Homo sapiens: one gene and its partners. The protein of the gene in region 2 purifies or fractionates together with the protein of the main gene of each other region. This does not show direct contact. Each region holds a gene or a part of one and is shown on either strand. Other genes may lie near its edges.

Evidence for each region.
Region 1: the proteins of FGL1 (region 2) and ETHE1 purify together in Homo sapiens (affinity purification with mass spectrometry; 4 studies listed by BioGRID and IntAct, with this or other methods). This does not show direct contact.
Region 3: the proteins of FGL1 (region 2) and ERCC3 purify together in Homo sapiens (affinity purification with mass spectrometry; 4 studies listed by BioGRID and IntAct, with this or other methods). This does not show direct contact.
Region 4: the proteins of FGL1 (region 2) and NAXD purify together in Homo sapiens (affinity purification with mass spectrometry; 4 studies listed by BioGRID and IntAct, with this or other methods). This does not show direct contact.
Region 5: the proteins of FGL1 (region 2) and LSG1 purify together in Homo sapiens (affinity purification with mass spectrometry; 4 studies listed by BioGRID and IntAct, with this or other methods). This does not show direct contact.
Region 6: the proteins of FGL1 (region 2) and AMMECR1L purify together in Homo sapiens (affinity purification with mass spectrometry; 4 studies listed by BioGRID and IntAct, with this or other methods). This does not show direct contact.
Region 7: the proteins of FGL1 (region 2) and GOLM1 purify together in Homo sapiens (affinity purification with mass spectrometry; 4 studies listed by BioGRID and IntAct, with this or other methods). This does not show direct contact.

The regions. Positions count from the first base shown.
Region 1 is NC_000019.10:43,510,202-43,513,701, forward strand, and holds part of ETHE1 (persulfide dioxygenase ETHE1, mitochondrial), read right to left. Parts: intron 1,366-3,500; coding exon 1,236-1,365; intron 1-1,235. UniProt on the Homo sapiens protein: Sulfur dioxygenase that plays an essential role in hydrogen sulfide catabolism in the mitochondrial matrix. Hydrogen sulfide (H(2)S) is first oxidized by SQRDL, giving rise to cysteine persulfide residues.
Region 2 is NC_000008.11:17,882,025-17,885,524, forward strand, and holds part of FGL1 (fibrinogen-like protein 1 precursor), read right to left. Parts: coding exon 3,468-3,500; intron 156-3,467; coding exon 1-155. UniProt on the Homo sapiens protein: Immune suppressive molecule that inhibits antigen-specific T-cell activation by acting as a major ligand of LAG3. Responsible for LAG3 T-cell inhibitory function. Binds LAG3 independently from MHC class II (MHC-II).
Region 3 is NC_000002.12:127,284,145-127,287,644, reverse strand, and holds part of ERCC3 (general transcription and DNA repair factor IIH helicase/translocase subunit XPB), read left to right. Parts: intron 1-627; coding exon 628-942; intron 943-3,500. UniProt on the Homo sapiens protein: ATP-dependent 3'-5' DNA helicase/translocase. Binds dsDNA rather than ssDNA, unzipping it in a translocase rather than classical helicase activity. Component of the general transcription and DNA repair factor IIH (TFIIH) core complex.
Region 4 is NC_000013.11:110,632,545-110,636,044, reverse strand, and holds part of NAXD (ATP-dependent (S)-NAD(P)H-hydrate dehydratase), read right to left. Parts: intron 1,501-3,500; coding exon 1,450-1,500; intron 1,374-1,449; coding exon 1,269-1,373; intron 578-1,268; coding exon 457-577; intron 1-456. UniProt on the Homo sapiens protein: Catalyzes the dehydration of the S-form of NAD(P)HX at the expense of ATP, which is converted to ADP.
Region 5 is NC_000003.12:194,644,692-194,648,191, reverse strand, and holds part of LSG1 (large subunit GTPase 1 homolog), read left to right. Parts: intron 1-762; exon of another isoform or gene 763-1,948; coding exon 1,949-2,028; exon of another isoform or gene 2,029-3,445; coding exon 3,446-3,500. UniProt on the Homo sapiens protein: Functions as a GTPase. May act by mediating the release of NMD3 from the 60S ribosomal subunit after export into the cytoplasm during the 60S ribosomal subunit maturation.
Region 6 is NC_000002.12:127,883,157-127,887,256, forward strand, and holds the start of AMMECR1L (AMMECR1-like protein), read right to left. Parts: upstream 2,801-4,100; 5' UTR 2,654-2,800; intron 1,705-2,653; exon of another isoform or gene 1,602-1,704; intron 1,157-1,601; 5' UTR 1,047-1,156; intron 1-1,046.
Region 7 is NC_000009.12:86,037,059-86,040,558, reverse strand, and holds part of GOLM1 (Golgi membrane protein 1), read left to right. Parts: intron 1-3,500.

The DNA of each region.
Region 1 (3,500 bases), on a different chromosome or scaffold from region 2:
GAGATTCTGAAACTATACTCGCTTTCTACAGGGAAGCTCCTAAATCTAACTGCCCCTAGCAGCTAGACTCCAAATGGATCATTCATTGCTCCCTGGCAATTAAACCGCTGGCTTTAACAACTTCTTTTTTTATCTTTTTTTTTTTTTTTTTTGAGATGAAGTCTCACTCTGTCACCCAGGCTGGAGTGCAGTGGCGCAATCTTGGCTCACTGCAACCTCCGCCTCCTGGGTTCAAGTAAATCTCTGCCTCAGCCTCCCGAGTAGCTGGGACTACAGGCACCCACCACCATGGCCAGCTAATTTTTGTATTTTTAGTAGAGACGGGGTTTCACCATCTTGGCCAGGCTGGTCTTGAACTCCTGACCTCATGATCCACCTGCCTCGGCCTCCCAAAGTGCTGGGATTATAGGCGTGAGCCACCATGCCCAGCCCTTTGTTTTTTTTTTTTTTTTAGCTATATTTGTTTCTTAGAGAGGGAGTCTCACTATGTTGCCCAAGCTGGGCTCAAATAGGTAACTAACACACCCCTGAATCTAACTGTCCCCCAACAGCTAAGCCCCTGAATCTAACTCTTCCCATACTCTAGCATGGGGGTCCTTAACCCTGGGTACCGGTCCGTGGTCTGTTAGGAACTGGGCTGTGCAGAAGGTGGTGAGCGGTGGGTGAGTGAGCAAAGCTTCATCTGTAGTTACAGCCACTCCCCATCACTCCCGTTACCACCTGAGCTCTGCCTCCTGTCAGATCCGCAGCAGCATTAGATTCTCATAGGAGCACAAACTCTATTGCGAACTGCACATGCGAGGGATCTAGGTTGCGTTCTCCTTATGAGAATCTAATGCCTGATGATCTGTCACTATCTTCCGTCTCTCCCAGATGTGACCATCTAGTTGCAGGAAAACAAGTTCAGGGCTCCCACTGATTCTACATGATGGTGAGTTACATAATTATTTCATTATCTATTGCAATGTAATAATAAAGTGCACAATAAATGTAATGCATTTGAATCCCCGAAACTATGCCCTGCCATGGTCCATGGAAAAATTGTCTTCCACGAAACCGGTCCCTGGTGCCAAAAAGGTTGGGGACCACTGTTCTAGCAGGTAAACTCCTTGAATTTAATACTGAAGCCCCCTAAAAGTCTAATGTCCATCCATTCATTCTTGTAACAGATACTTCAACACTTGACACACACGTAACTATATGAAGATCTTGGGCTGGATAAAGGAGCTGGTCACCTTGCTGGAAGTCTGTCCGCCCACACCCACGGATCAACAGGGCATCTCCAGTGAAGGCCATGCTGTGGTCATTCAGGACGAAGGTGACACAGCCTGGGGTGTGGCCAGGGCTGGCCCTGGTCTCCAACGCCTGGCAGGGGTGGAAGAGTACAGAGATAGTCACCAAGAAGCCTTCTAGATGAAACTGGCCCCCAAAGCCCCACCCTACCCCAGGGTCTTATCTAGATAAACATTTTGGTAAAAAATGTAGATTCCCAGGCTGTAATCTTATATTATCAGAGTAAACTCCAAGTGGATTAAAGATTTAAATGCATGAAAAATAAAACCGCAAAGCTGTGACACACAACAACAAAAATACAAATAATATCTGACCTCTGGTTAGGAAGGTGATATGGTTTGGCTGTGTCCCCACCCAAATCTCATCTTGAATTGTAGCTCCCATAATCCTCATATGTCATGGGAGGGACCAGGCAGGAGGTAATTGAATAATGGGGGCAGGTTTTTCCCATGCTGTCTCGTGATGATGAATAAGTCTCACGAGATCTGATGGTTTTATAAAGGGCAGTTCCCCTGCACACTCTCTCTTGCCTGCTGCCATGTAAGACAGGTCTTTGCTCCTCCTTCGCCTTCCACCATGATTGTGAGGCCTCCCCAGCCATGTGGAACTATGAGTCCATTAAACCTCTTTTTCTTTATAAATGACCCAGTCTTAGGGATGTCTTTATTAGCAGCATGAGAAAAGACTAATACAGTAAATTGGTACCAGTAAAGTGGGGTGCTGCTATAAGGAGATGTGAAAATGTGACTTTGGAACTGGGTAACAAGCAGAGGTTTGAACAGTTTGGAAGGCTCAGAAGAAGACAGAAAAATGTGGGAAAGTTTGGAACTTCCTAGAGACTTGTTGAGTGGCTTTGACCAATATGCCGAGAGTGATATGAACAATGAAGTCCAGGCTGACATGGTCTTACATGGAGATGAGGAACTTTTTGGGAACTGGGGTAAAGGTCACTTTTGTTATGTGTTAGCAAAGAGACTGGCAGCATTTTGCCCCTGCCCTAGAGATCTGTGGAACTTTGAACTTGAGAGAGATGACTTAGGGTACCTAGTAGAAGAAATTTCTCAGCAGGAAAGCATTCAAGAGGTGACTTGAGTGCTGTTAAAAGCATTCAAGAGGTGACTTGAGTGCTGTTAAAAGCATTCACTTCAGTTTTATGTATTCACAATGATATGGTTTGGAATTGGAACCTATGTTTAAAAGGGAAATAGAGCATAAATGTTTGGAAAATTTGCAGCCTGACAATGTGATAGAAAAAAAAACCCATTTTCTGAGGAAAAATTCAAGCCTGCTGCAGAAATTTGTATAAGTAACGAGGAGCCAAATGTTAATCACCAAGACAATGGGAAAAATGTCTCCAGGGCATGTCAGAGGTTTTCACAGCAGCCTCTCCCAACACAGGTCCAAAGGACTAGGAGAAAAAATGGTTTCATGGGCAGGGCCCATGGCCTTGCTGTTTTGTGCAGTCTCAGGACTTGGTGCCCTGCATCCCAGTCGGGGCTAAAAGGGGCCAAGTACAGCTCAGGCCATTGCTTCAGAGGGTGCAAGCCCCAAGCCTTGGTGGCTTACACGTGGTGCTGGGCCTGCTGGTGAACAGAAGTCAAGAACAGAGGTTTGGGAGCCTCCAGCTAGATTTGAGAGGCTGTATGGAAATGCCTGGATGTCCAGGCAGAGGTGTGCTGCAGGGGTGAAGCCTTCATAGGGAACCTCTGCTAGGACAGTGCAGAAGGGAAATGTGGAGTGGGAGCCCCCACAGAGAGTTCCCACTGGGGCACTGCCCCTAGTGGAGCTGTGAGAAGAGGGCCATCGCCCTCCAGAACCCAGAGTGTTAGATCCACCGAGAGCTTGCACCATGTGCCTGGAAAAGCCACAGATACTCCACACCAGCCCGTGAAAGCAGCCAGGAGTGGGGCTGTACCCTGCAAAGCCAGAGGGGCAGAGCTGCCCAAGACCATGGGAACCCACCTCTTGCATCAGCATGACCTGGATTTGAGACATGGAGTAAAAGATCTTTTTGGAGCTTTAAGATTTGACTGCCCCACTGGATTTAGGACTTGCACGGAGCCTGCAGCCCCTTCATTTTGGCCAATTTCTTCCATTTAGAATGGATGTATTTACCCAATCCCTGGATCCCACTGTATCTATGAAATAACTAAACTTGCTTTTGATTTTACAGGCCCATAGGTGGGAGGGACTTGCCTTGTCTCAGA
Region 2 (3,500 bases):
TCAATGACAGTATTCTCATCTCCTTTATCAAGGAACTGGACTTCATTCTCCTGCAAAAGCTGCTTGATCTTGACCTGTTGCTGTTTGACCCGGGTCTCAAGCAGGCGCACCTGGGCTCTGAGCCGCATCTGCTCCTGGGCACAGTCCTCGAGCGCCTGCAAAACAGGTGAGATGAGATGAGTATGCACCTCATTTTCATGGAAAACAAGTGCTTTTTAAACATTTGGATAAATCAGTGATTCCATTTTGTCTCCAGTTCCCATTTCAGAATATTATTCCAAAGAGAAAGTGGCTTGAAAAGTTCTAATACTGCCTACTATTTGAAGAATTGGAAATTATGGCTTATGCGAAAACTCCTGGACTCAAAAGATCAAATAATATAAAATAATTGGAATCGCTATGCTAGGAGCTTTATAGTTGTCTCCTTTGATCCTCATAACAATTCCATGCGGTAGGAAAGGGCTCAGTCTTGATGCCCAGTGGGTAAGCGGAGGTGGGATTCAAATTCAGTTCAAGGACTGTGCTCTCAATCTCTATATGACATTGCTTATGTGTTTTCTAAACAGTAATGTGGTTTATAGAAGTTAATTGTACTGTTGGCATGTAAATCTCCATAATAAATGAGGTTTTTGAATGGCTGTCTGGTATAAATACTTTTAAATATGTATATTTAATGTATATTATATATTATATATATTATATATGCATATAAATAATATATAATATATATAATATATAATATATTAAACAATATATAATATATAGTATATAATATATTAAACAATATATAATATATCATATATAATATATTAAATAATATATAATATATATCATATATAATATATTAAATAATATATAATATATCTCATATATAATATATTAAATAATATATAATATATCTCATATATAATATATTAAATAATATATAATATATATCATATATAATATATTAAATATATAATATATATCATATGTAATATATTAAATATATAATATATATCATATGTAATATATTAAATATATAATATATATCATATGTAATATATTAAATATATAATATATATCATATGTAATATATTAAATAATATATATCATATATAATATATTAAATAATATATAATATATATCATATATAATATATTAAATAATATATAATATATATCATATATAATATATTAAATAATATATAATATATATCATATATAATATATTAAATAATATATAATATATATCATATATAATATATTAAATAATATATCATATATATCATATATAATATATTAAATAACATATAATAATATATAATATATTAAATAATATATAATATAATAATAATATATAATATATAAAATAATATACAATATAATAATAATATATAATATATATTACAAAATATATAATATGAATATATATGAATATAAATGAATAGATATTATATAATATATAAATATAAATAATATATAATATATTAAATATATTTATATATAATATAATGTAATATAATTGTATTTATTATATTATAGTCTACTTTATATAATATATTATATTTATACATAATATACGTATATATAAAATTACATAATGGATTTATATAGTATATATTATATCAAATACATATGCATATATAATACATTTATATTTATATAGTCTATAATATATATATATTTTTTATATATATATATATGTAGTACATCTCCCCTCCCTCCCATCTCTAGGTCCAAGTCATGGAACCTCTCCCAGCCATTTTTCTAGGATGGTTTCTCCCTTTTCCTTCCCCTTCCCCTTTCCCTTCCTCTTCCCTTACGTTTCCTTTCTCAGAACCTCTCCCAGATATCTTTTCTAGGATGATTTCTTTCTCCTCTTTTCTTTTTCTTTTCTTTTGTTCTTTTCCTCTCTTTCTCCTTCCCTCCTTCCCTCCCTTCCTTCCTTCCTTTCTTTTCTTTCCTTTCTTCCCATCCCTAGGTCCAAGTCACAGAACCTCTCCCAGCCATTTTTCTAAAATGATTTCTTTCTCCTCTTCTTTTTCTTTTCTTTTGTTCTTTTCCTTTCTTTCTCCTTCCCTCCCTCCCTCCCTTCCTTCTTTTCTTTTCTTTCTTTCCTTTCTTCCCATCCCTAGGTCCAAGTCACAGAACCTCTCCCAGCCATTTTTCTAGGATGATTCCTTCTCTCTCTCTCTCTCTTTCTTTCAACAGAGTCTTGCTCTGTTGCCCAGGCTGGAGTGCAGTGGTGCGATCTCGGCTCCCTGCAACCTCTGCCTCTCTGGTTCAAGCGATTCTTGTGCTTCATCCTGGCAAGTAGCTGGGACTATACAGGTTGTGTGCCATAACACCCAGCTAATTTTTGTATTTTTAGTAGAGATGGGGTTTTGCCATGTTGCCCAGTCTGGTCTCAAACTTCTGGCTTCAAGCGATCCACCCACCTCGGCCCCTCAAAGTGCTGGGATTACAGGCGTGAGCCACTGCACCAGGCCTCTCTAGGATTACTTCTTATTTGTTCTTGTTACTCTATCCCTAACACTCAGATTTATCCCTTCTGAGATAGTTATTTGCTTAGCACCTTGAGTCACATAGGCTAAAAAATGAACAGCAAGAACATTTTATGGTGTCTGGGTCCTGAGTTGTTTTACAACAGTGGGGGATCGGTTGTGATATTGTTAAACATAGTGCACTATGCAATTTTAAAATAATTGAAGACATCACAGGTCAAGTATGCCCAATCTTTATGAGATTGCATACGCATATTTAGTAAGCTTATTTAAAACCTAGGAGTTTTCTTTCTCCAAGAACTTTGAATGAATGTTTTGTCTTTTTTATTCACAAATGAAGGACAACACAAGTTCGATGTAATTACTTTCAAATAATCTGGTTAGTTTTACACTTTTCAATATTGAAAAGCTCAAGGTTAATTTTAATTACTATGGACAGTTTCAAATTTCTAATATTCCAACCAAATAACTCCAGTGAATTTTTAAAAATTACTTATTTATTATGAATACTTTTTATTTAAAAAAATGTAAAGCACTTTTTTTTTTTTTGAGATGGAGTCTCACTCTGTCGCCCAGGCTGGAGTGAAGTGGCATGATCTCAGTTCACTGCAATCTCCGCCTCCTGGGTTCAAGGGATTCTCCTGCCTCAGCCTCACGAGTAGCTAGGACTACAGATGCGTGCCATCACGCCCGGCTAATTTTTTGTATTTTTTTTAGTAAAGATGGGGTTTCACCATATTGGCCAGGCTGGTTGCGAACTCCTGACCTTGTGATCCACCCATCTCGGCCTCCCCTGCAAAAATGTAAAGCGCTTTAAAGTGCTGCTTTACTATGTGTCCAGTATTTCTACCAGCCTCTTTGCTTTTCCCACATAGTTAAGTTTTTTCAATGACAAGTCACTATAGGTTTAATGCAAAATGAAAGAAAATTCAGATAAAAGCAGGCATTATAAATATGACAATAGTTTTCCCAAGAAGCTTACCGAAATTTCCCTGCCCATTGTCAGAGCGGTGGT
Region 3 (3,500 bases), on a different chromosome or scaffold from region 2:
TTTTTCTTTTTGAGACAGAGTCTTGCTCCGTTGCCCATGCTGGAGTGTAGTGGCGCCATCTTGGCTCACCACAACCTCCGCCTACTGGGTTCAAGATATTCTCCTGCCTCAGCCTCCCAAGTGACCGGGATTATAGGCGCCCGCCACCATGCCCGGCTAATTTTTTGTATTTTTAGTAAAGATAGGGTTTCACCATGTTGGCCAGGCTGGTCTTGAACTCCTGACCTCATGTGATCTACCCACCTCGGCCTCCCAAAGTGCTGGGATTACAGGTATGAGCCACCGTGGCATGGTGGCTCAGCCAGGTTTTTCTATCTTTAAAATAACAATAACAGGCATTTCTCTTCTCACTGGTTTGTTTTGAGATTTTGACATTTAAATGAGATGTGTGTAAAGTGCTACAGTAGGCCCCAGCGCCTGCCATTTCTCACATATGTATGTGAAGTGGGCATGTCTCCTCATTATAAAGAAGAAAACAGGCTGGAGCAGTGTGTGTCGCTCAGATGTCAGCTATGTGGACTGTTACAAGACATTTTCCTAGATTGCTGTACTTGTGAGTCATTCTGCCTGTCCCTGTCCTTCATTTCAACCTGTCCTTGGGTGGGATTGCACTCTTGTTTCTTGTAGGTGCTGGAAAGTCCCTGGTTGGTGTGACTGCTGCATGCACTGTCAGAAAACGCTGTCTGGTGCTGGGCAACTCAGCTGTTTCTGTGGAGCAGTGGAAAGCCCAGTTCAAGATGTGGTCCACCATTGACGACAGCCAGATCTGCCGGTTCACCTCCGATGCCAAGGACAAGCCCATCGGCTGCTCCGTTGCCATTAGCACCTACTCCATGCTGGGCCACACCACCAAAAGGTCCTGGGAGGCCGAGCGAGTCATGGAGTGGCTCAAGACCCAGGAGTGGGGCCTCATGATCCTGGATGAAGTGCACACCATACCAGGTAAGCAGGCTGGAGCTGAGCTGTCCACTTGCTGAACAGACAAACCAATTTCCAGTTGTTAGGTTGGGAAAGGGACTGCTGTGTAGCCCACCCAACTGGCTAGAAAGACTTGCTGGCTTGCTGGGTAAAGCTTTTAATAGTTCTTTTTTTTTTTTTTGAGAGGGAGTCTCACTCTGTCACCCAAGCTGGAGTGCAGTGGCACGATCTCAGCTCACCACAACTTCCACCTCCCAGGTTCAAGCAGTTCTCTGCCTCAGCCTCTGAGTAGCTGGGATTACAGGCACCTGCCACCATGCTAGGCTAATTTTTGTATTTTTGTAGAGACAGGGTTTCCCCATCTTGGCCAGGCTGGTCTTGAACTCCTGACCTCGTGATCCACCCACCTCATCCTCCCAAAGTGCTGGGATTACAGGCGTGAGCCACCGTGCCCGGCCAGTAATTCTTAAGTGGGATGCAGGCAGGAGTGTTCACATTCACAGTTTGCTTAATCACTGGCTCAGTAGTGATTTAGAAAATGATATTTTCTTTCCTCCATCTTCCTTTTGCTGCTCAGCTTCATCCGTTTTTTAATGGCCCTCTAAAAACTGGGTTAGGAGCACTGAAAAGCCCTTCCCAAAATGGTGGTGATGTGTTTTATTTGAAGCCCGGAATATTGATCCTTAGTCAATATGTAATAGAAGCCCTACTTCTCCAAGTATCATGGGCAAACCTTTTTTTTTTAAGCTGCTCTATTGATTTAATTTATATACCATAAAATCACCCCTTGTAAATATATAATCCAATGAGTTTTAGTAAATTTGTGGACCAGTGCAACCATGACCATGATCCAAGTTTTCTTTTCTTTTTTTTTTTGAGATGGCATCTTGCTTTGTTGCCCAGGCTGGAGTGCAGTCGTGTGATCTTGGCCCACTGCAACCTCCGCCTCTAGGGTTCAACTGATTCCCCTGCCTCAGCCTCCCAAGTAGCTGGGACTACAGGTGTGTACTACCACACCCGGCTAATTTTTTTTTATTTGAGACAGTTTCGCTCTTGTTGCCCAGGCTGGAGTGCAGTGGTGCAATCTCAGCTCACTGGAAGCTCTGCCTCCCGGGTTCAAGTGATTCTCCTGCCTCAGCCTCCCGAGTAGCTAGGATTACAGGTGTGCGCCACCATGCCCAGCTAATTTTATATTTTTAGTAGAGACAGGGTTTCTCCGTGTTGGTCAGGCTGGTCTCAAACTCCTGACTTCAGGTGATCCGCCCACCTCAGCCTCACCCTGGGATTACAGGCGTAAAGTACCACACCTGGCCAAATTTTTGTATTTTTAGTAGAGAAAGGGTTTCGCCATGTTAGCCAGGCTGGTCTTGAAGTCCAGACTTTAAGTGATCTGCCTGCTTGGGCCTCCCAAAGTACTGGGATTATAGACGTGAGCCACTGCATTCGGCCACCATGATCCAGTTTTAGATTTCCTTTGTACTCATTTGCAGTCAATCTTTGTTTCTCTATCTAGCTTCAGATGACTACTGAACTGCTGTCACTATAGATTTGCTTTTTATGGAAAATTTATATAAACACAATCATACAATATATATTATGTCTGGCTTCTTTCACTTCCCATAATGATTCATCTGTGCCTTAGCATTTATCAGTAGTTTGTTCCTTTTATTGCTGTATAGTTTTTTGGGCGAATCTTTTTTGATAAAAACAGATTAAGGGATTAAGATTAACAAATTAGGAGTGGGCATGGTGGCTGACACCTGTAGTCTCCTAGCACTTTGGGAGGCCAGGGCAGGAGGATTGCTTGAGCCCAGGAGCTTAAGATTAGCCTGGGTAACATAGTGAGACATGTCTCTACAAAAAAAAATTTTTTTAATTAGCCAAGTGTGGTGGTGTGCACCTGTGGTCTCAGCTGCTGAGGAGGCTGAGGTGGGAGGATCACTTGAACCTGGGAGGTTGAGGCTGCAGTGAACCATGATTGTGCAACTGTACTCCAGCATGGGTGACAGAGTGTGAGACTCTGTCTCAAAAAAAAAAAATAAAGATGAACAGATTAGGGTAAATTAAGGAGTCTAATAGAGGTTACTATGAACAAAATGAAATCTGAGGCATTTTCACAGGTAGTGTTCAAAATGTCAAAATGGCCCCAGCATCTGGTTCTTTCTGTGCATGAGAGCTCTTCAGCCCTGATGGGTTTCTGGAGATACCTAGAGATGTTCACAGCTGGCCAGGGAGGGATTGGAGGTCTTTCTGATGGAAGCCCAGGGTGTGGGCCCTGCTGTGGGAAAGTACTTGGCATAGTGAGACAGCACAAGGTGGCCATGCGGCCAGAGGAGAGCATAGGAACAGTAGTCAAGGCTGAGGAAGATTAGCGGTATTGGGGCAGGTCTTGTAGGACCTTGTAGGCCACGACAAGAACTTTGGCTTGTACTCTTAGTGTGAAGCCATCTGAGGGATTTGAGCAGAGCATGACATGAGTTGACTTTACACTGTAAAAATACTGCCCTGGCTGCTGTGCTGGAAATAGACTGAAGGAAGCAAGACAGAAGCGGTGAGGTGAGTTTGTGGAATCCCAGTAAGGA
Region 4 (3,500 bases), on a different chromosome or scaffold from region 2:
ACTACCAGCATCAGCTTCGGGGCTTTCTGCACTTTCCAGTCATTTTGATAAAAGAGAATGAAATGCAATAAAATACCCAAATAACTGCATGGATGGTGGATGCCACAGGTGAGATGAAGGTGGCAGCTGGAGACGCGGGACCCTGCACTGTGCCCTGCTGTTGCAGGCACCCTCCCGCCAGACTGCTTCTCATAACTGAGGCAAGGGAATTCAACCAACGGGTAAGGCCCACGGCTCGAAAGCCTGCCCTCACCACTGTCACCTCCCCTGGCAAAACAGTGAAAAGTCAAAACATGGACTCTGAAGAAAGTGTGGTTGACGAGCTCATCAGGAATCCCTGTGTGAATGTGTGTGAACACGGGTGTGCACGGGAGAGGTCTTCCAGGGCTCATGCTCGGTGTGGCCATGCTGACTGACCTGGCACTGGCCCATGCACAGAGGGCAGCCGCCACTCACCCTGCTGGCCGTTGGAGAGGATGTCGCGCTCTCCTTTCTGGACCACCGTCACGTTGCCCAGGGCTTGGCTGAGTCTTAGCACAGATCCATGGCTGTCATCGCTGTCCATAGGGCCTCTGAGCTATGACAACACAGGAAGACAGAGAAAAAGCAAAGTCTTCCTCAGACACACGACGACAGATAGCCCTGTCCCATCCGCCATGAGACTCATGCTCTCGTGTCTAAAGGGATCACCCAGGCACCTGTTAAAGGCCATGTAGGTGGGAGGATGCCCAGGATATCACCTGCAGTGAGTCCTCCGAGCAGGTGCTGACACGGTGCCTGCTCCAGTGCCCATCCTCTACCTCATCAGAGCAGGCTGAAGGAGGACCACCCAAGACTGGGTTCTGAGAGCTTTGCAGGAGTAATACAAATTCCAGTCGTACTGGGCACTAACATTGATGGGACACTTACCATGTGGGGACTCACGGCTTTACATAGGTTTCCTCATCTCATCCTCACAACCCCGTGAAGCTGATGCCATCATCACATTACAGATGAGGCACTCAGGACACAGACAAAGTGACCTGTCCAGAGTGCACTGCAGGAGGGGCTGACTGACCCGAGTCCCTGCCTGTCCCAAGCCCACTACACCATCGTTCATCCAATCCAAGCGCATTAATGGGAAGACGCGCCATCCGCTGGGAGAGGCACAGCGATTACTTGCAGGTGTGTCCACAGGGACAGGCTGGGCAGAAGCATGGAGCTCGTCCTTCACCCTCTTCAGGACGAACAGGGCTTGCATCTACCCTCCAGGGGGTCCACTGACTCACCACAGCGTCATACAGTCTGCTGAACTCCACGTGGTTGGGAGTGAGCACAGCCTTCCGGTAGCCATGGATGAGGGCCGGCTGCTGAGCGACCAGCCACAGGCCATCCTGCACAGAACAAGGAGCCGTGCTCACTGCACAGGCCTTCCGGGAGTCCGAGCCAGGAGGAGAGAAGTCAACTCACCGCGTCGATGACAACAGGGATGTCCCTGGCCTTTGACACTTCCAAAATGCCCTGCCAGAAGAGAAAACCAGACTGAGCACCATGCCTGCTGCTATGGTGTGGGTATGTGTCTTCTCAAAACTCATGGTGAAACTTAATTGCCAAGGGAAGGGTCCTGGGAGGTGGGGCCTTTAAAAGGTGATGTGGCAGTGTCCTCATGGGTTGGTTTAATGACCTTTAAAAGAGGCATAAGGGTCTCTCTCCTGCCCTTCTGCCCTCGCCAGATGCCGGCACCTTGATGTTGGACATCCACCTTCAGAACTGTGAGCCAGTAAACGCCTGTTCATTATCAATTACCCAGTCTGTGGTACGGCTACAGCAGCGCAAAACCGACTAAGACACTTTTCCCAAGAGTGACAGAAAATTGAGCAGACTCTTAATAAAATGCAACATCAGGCCATCAAACAATAAATGGAAAATAATCAAGTAAATGAATAAAATAGAGAAGCAGAAAGACCCAATGAACTCGCAGAGCCCGTAAACAAGGCAGGACACTGGGAACTCTGAAAGGCGAAGCCCACTGGAAACGCTATGAACAACAGCTGGGCTCCTAGGCTAACCCATGAAGACAGCCCCCGCCCCAGCAAGGGCATCCAGTTCTCCAACAGATACTAATACGCAGCATTCGGAGGCAGGAAATCTGAATTCCTGAGAATTCCCCAAATCATTAGTCATTATGTATTTTTCATATCACTTTACTTACACGTTTTAAAATAACAACAATAATAAACAGGGAATCATTTTTCCCTGATAGGATTACAGTGAAGGTTTCAAAGGTTTTCTATTAAAAAAAAAAAACTACATGTATAGATACACACACATATATGTAATATTTGGTGGTTTTTATTATTATGAGCCAATACATTGTGACAAGATTATACACTGCAGTAGCATGTAAAGTGATCCTGACTTGACAGACACCTGATAATACAAAACATTAAAATAGAAAACATTAAACAAAATGAGAGGTGACAGCATGCTGGCAGTCCTCAGAGCCCTCGCTTGCTCTCAGCACCTCCTCTGCCTGGGCTCCCACTTTGGCGGCATTTGAGGAGCCCTTCAGCCCACCACTGCACTGTGGGAGCCCCTTTCTGGGCTGGCCAAGGCTGGAGCCCACTCCCTCAGCTTGCAGGGAGGTGTGGAGGGAGAGGCGCGAGCGGGAACTGGGGCTGCCTGCAGCGCTTGCGGGCCAGCTGGAGTTCCGGGTGGGCGTGGGCTTGGCGGGCCCCGCACTCGGAGCAGCCGGCCAGCCCTGCTGGCCCGGGGCAATGAGGGACTTAGCACCCGGGCCAGCGGCTGCAGAGGGTGTACTGGGTCCTGCAGCAGTGCCAGCCCACCGGCACTGTGCTCAATTTCTCACCGGGCCTTAGCTGCCTTCCCGCCGGGCAGGGCTCGGGACCTGCAGCCCGCCATGCCTGAGCCTCCCACCCCCTCCATGGGCTCCTGTGCGGCCCGAGCCTCCCCGACGAGCACCACCCCCTGCTCCACGGCACCCAGTCCCATCGACCACCCAAGGGCTGAGGAATGCGAACGCACGGCGCAGGACTGGCAGGCAGCTCCACCTGCAGCCCTGGTGCGGGATCCACTGGGTGAAGCCAGCTGGGCTCCTGAGTCTGGTGGGGATGTGGAGAGTCTTTATATCTAGCTCAGGGATTGTAAACACACCAATCAGCACCCTGTGTCTAGCTCAGGGTTTGTGAGTGCACCAATCAGCACCCTGTGTTTAGCTCAGGGTTTGTGAATGCACCAATCGACACTCTGTATCTAGCTGCTCTGGTGGGGCCTTGGAGAACCTTTATGTCTAGGTCAGGGATTGTAAATACACCAATCGGCACTCTGTATCTAGCTCAAGGTTTGTAAATACACCAATCAGCACTCTGTGTCTAACTCAGGGTTTGTGAGTGCACCTATCGACACTCTGTATCTAGATGCTCTGGTGGGGCCTTGGAGAACCTGTGTGTCGAAACTCTGTATCTAACTAATCTGATGGGGACGTGGAGAACCTTTGTGTC
Region 5 (3,500 bases), on a different chromosome or scaffold from region 2:
CTCTGTGTTTTATCCCAATTCCACGTGGGAACCTATGATTTCTTGCCTTAAATGTAAACTTTAAAGGTGGCCTGGAGAACCTTGTGTCTACCTAAAAAAAAAAAAAAAAAAAAAAATAGCAGTGTGGGAAACATTTCCGTGCGTGGGTGACTTGCCTTTACAGGGATTGCTGCTGGTTGGGAAGGAGTTCAGCTTATTTGAGTATTTACTGGCAGAGAAAGGTGAAAGGTGATTTGATATGAATCACACTTAAACCTTGAACTTAGAGACTCTAAAGAGGATAAATACTAAACACTTGTGGTAAGACTATTCTAATTACAGATTCATAGAACAAGAAAAGACCTTAAAGATCACCTCACCTCCTAGCCCCTGCTTTTAAGAGTAATCATCCGAACTCAGAGCCTGAGCTGACCCAAGGTGAGGTGGCTGGTCAGTGGAATAGCCTGGGTGAGATCTCCCTGCAGGATGTTAGCCTGCAAAATGCAGAAAGGTGGACTTCCACCAAACTTCCAGTTTGATTGTACTTCCGATACAACTGAAAATAATGTGAGTCTTTTAAGATGTTTCATCTAATGCTGCCTGATAAAATCAGAGTAAGGAAAAAGCCAGTTTGTAAAAGCAAATGACCACACGTACAATTTCTAAGTTCACTATCTGCAAGTCCATATAGAAGAAAATCTCTGACAGTAAATTTTCAAAGATATTGCCAGATTACTCTCATTTTACTTTGTATTTCTTTAAATACTAGTGAAGTTGAGCATCTTTCCAAATGTTTTGTGACCATTTATTTTTCTTCTGGGAATCACATTTTCCTATACATGGTTCTGTCTTAATGATTTGTAAAAGTTCTTTGTTATATGTGCTACACATTTTTTCCAATGTTAATTTATGGTTTCTTTGGCCCCAAAGAAGTTGACAATTTTAATAGACTATATTTTTCCTTTTTGGTTTGACTGGGTTTGGTGTTTTACTTGGGAAGGTCTTCTCCCTCCCAAAAAGATAAAACTATCTTCCTGTAATATTTACTTACTTTTTTAACATTTAGATTTTTAATCTGACGAAATTTATTGTTGTATATTGTGTAAATTAGGATTCTAACTATTTTCTTCGAAACTGGAAAAGCCAGTCGACAGCTAGTATGTGAGGGAACTGAGTTTTGAACGCAGCCTGTCTGCTGAAGCCGTGTTCTTAACCACCATGCTTCGCTGCTTTTCTAATTGAGTTAGTATTAAAGGGATCTTACTGGGGAAAAAAATGTAGGTACATCATTCAGTAAGAAAACTTCTCTGTTGCTTTCTGTTTTGCAAGTAGTATTGATAGCGTAGCATTCTCCTACAGGTAGCCTCCATGAATAAATGTTTAAAATAAGGAGGCTGGGTGTAGTGCCTCACGCTTGTAATCCCAGCACTTTGGGAGGCCGAAGTGGGTGGATCACCTGAGGTCAGGAGTTCAAGACCAGCCTGAACAACGTGGTGAAACCCCATCTCTACTAAAAATACAAAAAGTAGCCAGGCGTGGTGGCATGCGCCTGTAATCCCAGGTACTTGGGAGGCTGAGGCATCAGAATTGCTTGAACCTGGGAGGTGGAGGTTGCAGTGAGCCAAGATTGTGCCTCTGCACTCCAGCCTGGGCAACAGAACGAGACTCCATCTCAACAAAAAATAAAATAAAAATAAAATAAAGAGAAGAAATAACTGGAGTAGAGAGAAATCGAATTTGTCTTTCATAGCGTGGTGCTAGGTGGCATTTTTAGGATATCAGATATAAGTAAATATTCTCCTGGATTATCTAGTGTTTTTAATGCTAAACAATATATATTCTACAATGATACCTAATTTTTTAAAATCCAAGAGTAAGAATGCTTAGTAATAGAAGCTACATCACCTCAGTTGTCTTTGTTGTGATATTCTGTCATCTAAGATTTTGCAAAATTCTTTTCTCTCCACAGACATGCGAGGATTCATGACAGCGCATGGACAGCCAGACCAGCCTCGATCTGCGCGCTACATCCTGAAGGACTATGTCAGTGTAAGTGAACCCTGCCTCTCATGCTCTCCAATACACAAGTCTTTTCCACATTCTGCGTTCTTAGATAATGGTAACCTGTTCGATTATAAAGGAAATATTTTTTCATTGAAACTGGAGTTGTGTTCTTGATGTAGGGTAGTTAACATTATATGGATTATAGACATTACAAAAGATGGAGATCTCTGAACACCTATTATGAGTGAAAATCACCAATATATGCATCTGGCTTTTTTTGTCTCCTACAGCCCTTTGCTTGTTATGATTGCAACTATTGTCACAGTCTTCTTTGTAGTATAGCTGTTTATATGCCTATCTCTATATTTGCCTAGTAACGATAACAGCTAACATTTCTTGAAAGCTAACCCTGCTAGAAATAGTTCTGTTTTACGTGCGTCTTCTCAGTACAAATATGTAACAAGTCTGTGAGATTACTATTTCTCCTTTTCAAATGAGAACATGCTATTTGGGGGTTTCCCCATAGTAAAATGGAGATGAACAGGGCCTATCTCATGAGATTATTATGGGAAATAAATGAAAACTCTGTGTGTGTGTGTGTGTGTGTGTGTGTGTGTGTGTGTGTGTGTGTGTCTGTCTGTGTGTGTGTGTGTGTGTGTGTGTGTGTGTGTGTCTGTCTGTGTGTGTGTGTGTGTGTGTGTGTGTGTGTGTGTAGCACTAAGCTCAATGCCTGGCACATAATGAGCCCCCAGTAATTGTTATCTATTAAGTTTCTTTCCACAAATAAGCATTACAGGGCCCTGTTAATAACCAGTTGTGAGGATTTGGCTTTATTTCCTCCTCTTCTCAAGACCACATCGGTGGAGCTCTTGGAGCTCAGTGGCAACCATATGGGCTTGCCTTCAGTTCAGGAAGAAAGCAGTTCATGCTATTGGTATGGATAAGTCATGTATTCGTTTACCACTTACTGTGGAGGATGTAAAGATGAGGTAAAAATAGTCACAGCCTTCAGATCATTTATGATGGAAAGAGGCAGACTTGCACCCAGTGAGCAACTGCAACCCCACATACAGGAGTCGAGGAACTCTCCTGACTTTAACAGTCTAACCCGGCATTACCGTAACTGTCCAGTTATGTCTTGAGTTTTGTTTTGGAAAATATTCACCATAAGTATGATCATGTCCGTATACTGAAGAATACTTGAGTGGGAATGCAAACGAGAAAAGAAGAAAGAGATTTCATCCTAGTCTGGGGCGCCATGGGAAGAGCTAGGTCTCTAGAACACTTTGACCATTGATGTATTAGAAAAAGGACTCTTCAGCTGCAGTAGACCAAAACTCAACTCAGCTAACTTAACCAGAAGGCAGAAAGCTCCATCAGAGTGTGACTGGGTGGAGCTGTCTCCTCTGAGGCCACAGATGGCACTTAGGCTGCACTGTTGTCATTCATGTTGTCTTTGTAGGGTAAGCTGCTGTACTGCCATCCTCCTCCTGGAAGAGATCCTGTAACTTTTCAGC
Region 6 (4,100 bases), on a different chromosome or scaffold from region 2:
CATGATCTCAGCTCACTGCAACCTCCACCTCCCGGGTTCAAGCGATTCTCCTGCCTCAGCCTCCCAAGTAGCTGAGGACTACAGGCACATGCCACCACACCTGGCTAATTTTTGTATTTTCAGTAGAGACGGGGTTTCACCATGTTGGCCAGGATGTCTTGATCTCTTGACCTCGTTATCCACCTGCCTCGGCCTCCCAAAGTGCTGGGATTACAGGCTTGAGCCACTGCGCCTGGCCAGAACTATACATTTTCATTTCAACTTAGCTTAAAGAAAAACATGTACCTAGGAGTCAAAACTCTTTTCACCTCCCCTCTGTTTTCTATGTGACCTGTAGCAAGGTGCCACATTTTTCTGGGCCTCAGTTCTTTCATTTGTAAAATAAAAACATTTATCCCCTGTGTCCCTCAGAGGGGCTGGGAGGCTTCACCAAGAAGTGAAACACTCTGAAAACTCTCTCCTAAGTGTTAGCATACTATCATTAATCAACTCAAGAGGGCACAGCAGTCATAATTTTTCCCCAGAACTTTGTTTCAAGTTTACAGTGAAAAATTTTAATTATCTTCAAATCTGTGATGGGATTTTCAAGAAAATATCTTCACTATTGCAAATTTAGGACAAAATGTTCCAAAAGTCTCTCAGGACTGAAACTATAGAAAAGAGAACCAATAATTGACTTTGATCAGGAACTGCATTAACCTCTGAGTTAATTACCCTAAAACTTAAGACAACCTCTTTGGTTGTATTGAGAAACTCATTTGGGAAGGGTGAGGAGCCAGACCTTACAAACTAGAAATATAAAGGAAAGATCATGCCACGCCACCACCTAGCTCACTCTAATGGGAGTATGAAAAACAAACTTGCCTTTGCATATTTAAATTATTTTAAAAGGGAACAAGCGGAAAAACTTCATCAACATTAGGACCCCCTCATGGAAGTAGAAAAATACAAATGAAAACACACCTACATCCCAAAATCCTAGCACATGCCTAAAATCAAAAACTACAACGATGCTCTACTCTAAATATGCCCAAGATAATACTCACTGAAAGCAGAAAGTTTGTATTGCCAGAGGAACAGCTACAACAGAGGAGGGGAGCTATTTTGTCTCTGGAATGAATTTTCTTCCTTCCGATTCCATTCCTTCTTCCTGTACCTAAGACGGAAATGCAGGTGCAGTGAACAAACACCCAGGTAGTGCAGAGGTAAGATAGATACGGTTTCTGAAAAATCACAACTCGACAGAGCAATTTCGGGGGGGTGGGGGGCACAGCAAATAGCTAGAGAACAGGCTCTCCTTATTTCAAAACCTTGCAAACTCTAAATCTGAGGCAGCCGTGAAGTCCCATGCCCTGAATCATCTCATCCTTAGCGTCATCAGCAAGAAGGGAGGACACTGAGAATCAAAGGTTTTATTTATTGAACTCGAGCATGAGACGCACATTAAAACTTCCCCACCACAGATGCAGAGCAAAAGTTGCTCTCAGGCCAGAAGAGACCATTTAAAAGCTCTCCGCCGGTTTCAGAACACAAATAAATTTCCCAATCCTCTGCAAAGACAGAACTGAAGAATTACTGGACAGCACGCCAGAGGCAGGGACCTGAGGGCAGGCCATCTTGCTATGCCGGGAGGAGACGGTCACTGTTGCTAAGGGTCATCCATCCTTAGTCTCGAAGAAATCTCTTCCTGATCTCTTCACCAACTCTCCCCACTACTAGAGAATTGAGCTACTCCCAAAGATGTAAGTAAACAGGAGACTGTTTACATCTCCTGTGGGTGGGAGAGGCCCCACCCACTCTATCCTAGGAGAGGGCAGTGAAAGAGGATAAGGCCCAGAGGGATAAGGGTGAGGGAGCATGGCAAGGAGAGGAGTTCAGATCAGGACAGGGAATGTAGGAGGGCAAGGAGTGAAGGGCACAACCCACAGCCTGGGAAAGAGAGGCATGAAACCCAGCGTGTCAGGTGGACGGATCATGGAATGGGGGGCCAGCGGAGGTTAAGGAAGGAGGGCCCAAGAGTAGGGGTGCGAAAAAGAGAAGAGGAGGAGGAGAAAGTGCGCGTGTGAAGAGTGTTAAGAAAACGACAGGACAGAGCGGGGAGGGGAAAAGCGGGCCGAGGGACAGGGTGAAAGGTGAGAAACGAGGGTATGAGGAAAGAGGGTCCGGGGCGCTGGGGAGTTGGGGAGACGATGGAGCGACGGGTAGAGCAGCTTGGGCCGAGCCGCGGGGGTGGAATCCAGACGCCGGGCGGGGGAGGGGGCGGCGGGGCGGCGGGACGGTGGGTGGGGGCCACCAGGCGGCGCCGGAGACCACCAAACTTTACAGCGAGCGAGCCTGCTTCCTGGAGGGAGTGCAGACAAGGACCAGGAGCGGGAGCCGAGCCTCGCGGCCCGGGGCACGGCGCCGCCCGCCCCTCCCCGGCAGTGCCTCCCGACCCCCTGCCCTCCGCTGGGACATGGCCTGAGGCCCCGCCCGCCGCCCGGGACTCCTCCCCCCCGCTGCCCCCGGACCCTCGCCCCAGGACCGCGGGGTCTCTTCCCGGCCCCGCCGCCCGCCCCGGCGAGAACAGGCCCGGCGGGCAAGGCGGCGGCGGACCGAGGGAGGCCTGGCCCGGCAGCGGGGAGAAGGGTGCGGCGCAGCCCGAGTTTCCCACCTTTTCTCCTGGCCCAGACGCGGCTGGGGCGGACGGGACCTCTCGCGCTCTGCCTCCTCCTCTTGCTTCATGGAGCCATGCGCCTGGGTGGGGGCTCCCGAGAGAAGCTGGCCTGCGGGCGGGCCGGACGCGCTGCGCGGACGGGGCGGGGCGAAGGAGGCCGGCGGGCGGAGGAGGAAGCGGCGGGGCGGCGGCGGCGGCGGCGGCCGGGAAGAACTAGAGGTATTCCCCGGGCGGCTGGAGGACTGAGTCGAGCCGGGACCCGAGTCCTCCGGTATCCCAGCAGCCACCGGAGGCAGTGAGGTAATGGAGGAAGAATGTAGGGAGTCCTCCAGTGGACCACACTCCTTCTAGCGAGCCGCGGAAACCATAGAGATCAGGGCTCAGCCGGAGGGCCGGCCCACTGCTGTCACGTGGCCTCCATCCGTGCGCTTTATTGGCTGGTGCTGGCTTTACGGGGTTGAATTTTGGACGCTGCCTGCCATTCGTGGGACCGAGTTTCAGGCAGCTGGAATAAAGAGAGACATCGGGGGAAAGCCGCGAGAAGGCCAGCGTCCCTGGCTGGGAGCAGAGCTAGCCGAGTAGGGCGCCCGGCTGTCAAAACTGGCCGGCGCAGTGCACGCTGGGCCGCCCCGGAGCGGTCGCAGAGCCCGTCGGGAGTCGTAGTCCGGGACGGGCCCGCAGCATTGTCCGCGACGCAGCTCGGGATCCGCGTCGGGTTGTCGGCCGGGTTGCTGCCAGGCACCGTCGAGCGTTAGCCACCCAGCATTGAGCTGCCAGCGGCTGTTCTCCCTAAGCACCCTCGCTCACGTCGCCTCGCCTCGCCTCGCCTGACCGGCCGCAGCCTTGGATACCAGCCTTAAATCGAGCCGACTACGGCCCAGCCCCGCCCGCGGCGAAGTGCGCGGGGTTCGGTGCCAGCCGCTCGCCCCTGGCCGGGCCAGCCTCTTGATGCACCGGGGACGGGCGCGCCCATCCGACTCTTCGAGGGGCGGCAGGGCCCCATCTGTGTCTTTCGCTCTCGAGCCCCCAGCTAGAGTTGGCTTCAGCGGAATACCTACTGTGCAGGATTATTCAACAAGCCGATTGATCACATTCTTCAGCTCTAGCAGTGCAAAGGCTTCACTGAAAAAGAACATTACAAATTTTTTTTGAAAGAAATTTGGGGGTAAATTTAATTTTAAATACTGATTTTTGATAACATTTGATCTTATGACAGCATTTGTATTTTTAATTACAGATAGGATTACACTAAAAGTCATTTCTGACCTGCTCCCTTACCCTTATGGCTAAAATAAACTGCTAGGCCCTGAAGCAAAGGCGAGCCATGTTCTAGAGCAATGTCTTTCTTGTATTAAAATACGGCCCCATGCTCACATATAGGCTGTTTTGTGTTTTGCTTTTCTGTTGATGCACAAAGGAATCCTTGATATGTTTGTCCTCAAAG
Region 7 (3,500 bases), on a different chromosome or scaffold from region 2:
CCTCCAGCCCCGCTTCACAAGCTCAGGGCTTTACGGGAATTATCGTATTTAAAGCTCGCAGCCAGCCTGGGAGAGAGTTGCTGTTTTCCTGACTTGAGGACCCCAGCCCCATGGGAGGGGTTAAGTTCTGTGGCCAGTGTCACACCACCTGGTCAGTGGTAGAGCCCATCAAGACCTCAGGTCTGGCCGACTCCATGTCTCGTGCTGTCATTCCACCTCCTGTGCAGAGCACAGCCCACGAAGCTGCTGCTTGAAGCCTTCTGGGTGATCTTTGAGTAGTTTTTTAAAAATATAGCAGCTTTATTAAGATATAATTTGCATTCCCTATGATTCACCCATAGAAAATTTACAATTCATGGGTTCTGAGTATATTCACAAAGTTATGCAGCCATCACCACAGTCAATTTCAGAACATTTTTATTGGCACAAAAGAAACCGTGTATCCCTTAGTTCTCTCTTCAGTCCCCACAGCCCTAGACAGCCAACTGCTAATGTACTTTGTGTCTCTTGATTTGCCTAATCTGGACAATTTCCTGTCAATAGAATCATATATGTGTGGCCTTTTGTGTCTGACTTTTTTTTTTTTTTTTTGAGAGGGCATCTCGCTCTCTCACCCAGGCCAGAGTGCAGTGGCGCGATCTCAGCTCACTGCAGCCTCTGCCTCCCAGGTTCAAGCGATTCTCCTGCCTCAGCCTCCCGAGTAGCTGGGATTACAGGCACCCACCACCACACCTGGCTAATTTTTGTATTTTTAGTAGAGACGGGGTTTCATCATGTTGGCCAGGCTGGTCTTGAACGGCTGACCTCAAGTGATCCACCCACCTCGGCCTCCCAAAGTGCTGGGATTACAGGCGTGAGCCACCACGCCCGGACTGTCTGGTATCTTTGACTGAGTATGAATACCTCAGGGCTCATCGGGGTTGCAGCATGTGTCTGTACTGCATTCCCTTTAATGGCTGATTAATCCATCCTGTGGATAGACCACATGTGGATTATTCATCATCAGTTGATGGGCATTTGGAGTGTTTCCATGTTTTGGCTATTATGAATAATGCCGTATGAACATGAAGCTTTTGTGTGGTCATATGTTTTCATTTCTCTTGGTTAATACCTAGGAGTGGAACTGCTGGGTTATATGGTAATCTATATTTAACCTATTGAGGAACTCCCAGACTTCTTCCAAAGTGGCCATACCATTTTCGACTGCCACCAGTAGTTTATGAGGGCTCCAGTTTCTTCACATCCTTGCCAACTCTTGATACTACCTTTTTCATGATACCCTTCCTAGCAGGTGTGGAGTGGCAGCTCGTTGTTTGGGTTTGCATTTCCCTAATAACTGTGATATCCCTGATGATATTCAGCATCTTTTCACATGTTTCATTGGCCATTTGTATATCTTCTTTGAAGAAATGTCTATTTGGGTCCTTTGCTCATTTTTTAATTGAGTTATTTTTATTATTGAATTGTAAGAGTTTTTAAAATCTATTTTATTAAAGATATATGATAATGGATATATGATTTGCAAGTTTTTTTTCCCAATTCTGTGGGGTTTTTCACTTTCTTGCTGGTGTTTAGTTGAAGCACAGAAGTTCTTAATTTTGACAAAATCCCCATTTTATTTATTTTTTCTTTTGTTGTGTGTTCTTGGTATTATATCTAGTAACACTTTGCCTGACCCAAGATCTTGAAGATTTACTGTTACATTTTCTTCTCAGAGTTTTATCGTTCTTAGTTCTTACGTTTAAGCCTGTGATTCATTTTCAGTTAATTTAATTATTGCATATGGTGTGAGGTAGAGCTCCCACTTCATTCTTGTGTGTGTGCGGTTATCAAGTTGTCTCAGTAATCACTTGTTGAAAGAAAGACTGCTTTTCCCCCACTGAATTGTCTTGGCACCTTTGTCAGAAATCAGTGTGCTGTAAGTATGAGGGTTTTTAGTGAGCCTGAGTGTTTTAGTGAGCCTGAGTCCCTTGGCTGTGAATGTCCCCTATGCTTCTCTTCAGTACCCACTCCCTACCCCAGTGGGACAAAGTGGCTGGAATGGGCTGGAGTTGAGTAGCTTCCTTCTCCCACGTGGAAGTCTAGAGCTTACTGGAGTTGGGTGTTTCATTCCCCCAGGTCAGTTAGGCTCAGATAATATGCCCGCAGGAGCTCTGGGTAATGCGCTCCTCGTGAGGGCCGGCCTGGTTAAGGAGAATAGAGCACTCTGGCCTGTTTCAGAATGGTTCCTTTCCCCGCCACACTGCTGGAAGCACAAGCCGATTTTTCTCTGATGTTCACTGAGAGCCTTTCTCTAATATTCACTGAGAGCCTGGTTGAGCTCCTAGGGGTAAAACTCATAAGTATGGGAGTCCCTTATGACTGGGGCAGGTTTTTTCTTTTTCTTTTTTTTTTTTTTCTTTTGGTGTTGGAGTTTTGCTTTTATCGCCCAGGCTGGAGTGCAATGGCGCAATCTTGGCTCACCACAACCTCTGCCTCCCGGGTTGAAGCAATTCTCCTGCCTCAGCCTCCCGAGTAGCTGGGATTACAGGCATGCGCTACCACACCTGGCTAATTTTGTATTTTTTAGTATATCGGGGTTTCTCCATGTTGGTCAAGCTGGTCTTGAACTCCCGACCTCAGGTGATCAGCCCGTCTCAGCCTCCCAAAGTACTGGCATTACAGGCATTAGCCACCACGCCTGGCTGGGGCAGGTTTTTAACTCTCAGACTCATCCACACTGAGCCTCAAACAGTTCATAAATGACAGGGTCAGGCTCTCCCACCCTGACACCAGTTCCCGTGGTGATGTCTGCCCAAGCCTGTCCTGGTGAGCCGGGACTCTCTGTATTGGGCTGTCTGTCTCCAGGCTTAAGGACAGTGATTTACACTCTGTCCTCACCTCTCCTATGGATCCAAGAAGAGCTGATAACTTTTCAGTCTGTTTAGTTTTTTACTTGTTAGGACTAAGTGGTGACTTTTAAGCTTCTCACGTGAGGAACAGAAAACTGGAAGTCTTCTAATACAGATGCTTGAAGGTGTACATTTCTTCTAAGCACTGCTGGAGCTGCTTCCCATAAGTTTTGGTATGCTGTGTTTTTGTTTTGTGGCAAAGCATTTTCTTTTTTTTTTTTTTTTTTTTGAGAGACAGTCTCGCTCTGTCGCCCCAGGCTGGAATGCAATGGCATGATCTTGGCTCACTGCAACCTCCACCTCCCAGGTTCAAGCGATTTTCCTGCCTCAGCTGGAAATCACCTCCTTGCCTCACCTCCCAAGTAGCTGGAATCACAGGTGCCTGCCACCACACCTGGCTAATTTTTGTATTTTTAGTAGAGATGGGGTTTCACCATGTTGGCAAGGCTGGTCTCAAACTTCTGACCTCTGGTGATCTGCCTGCCTCGGCCTCCCAAAGTGCTGGGATTACAGGTGTGCGCCACCGCGCCTGGCTGTCCAAGCATTTTCTAATTTGTGTTGTGGTTTATTGTTGGACTCACTGGTTATTTAGGAGTGTGTTGTTTAATT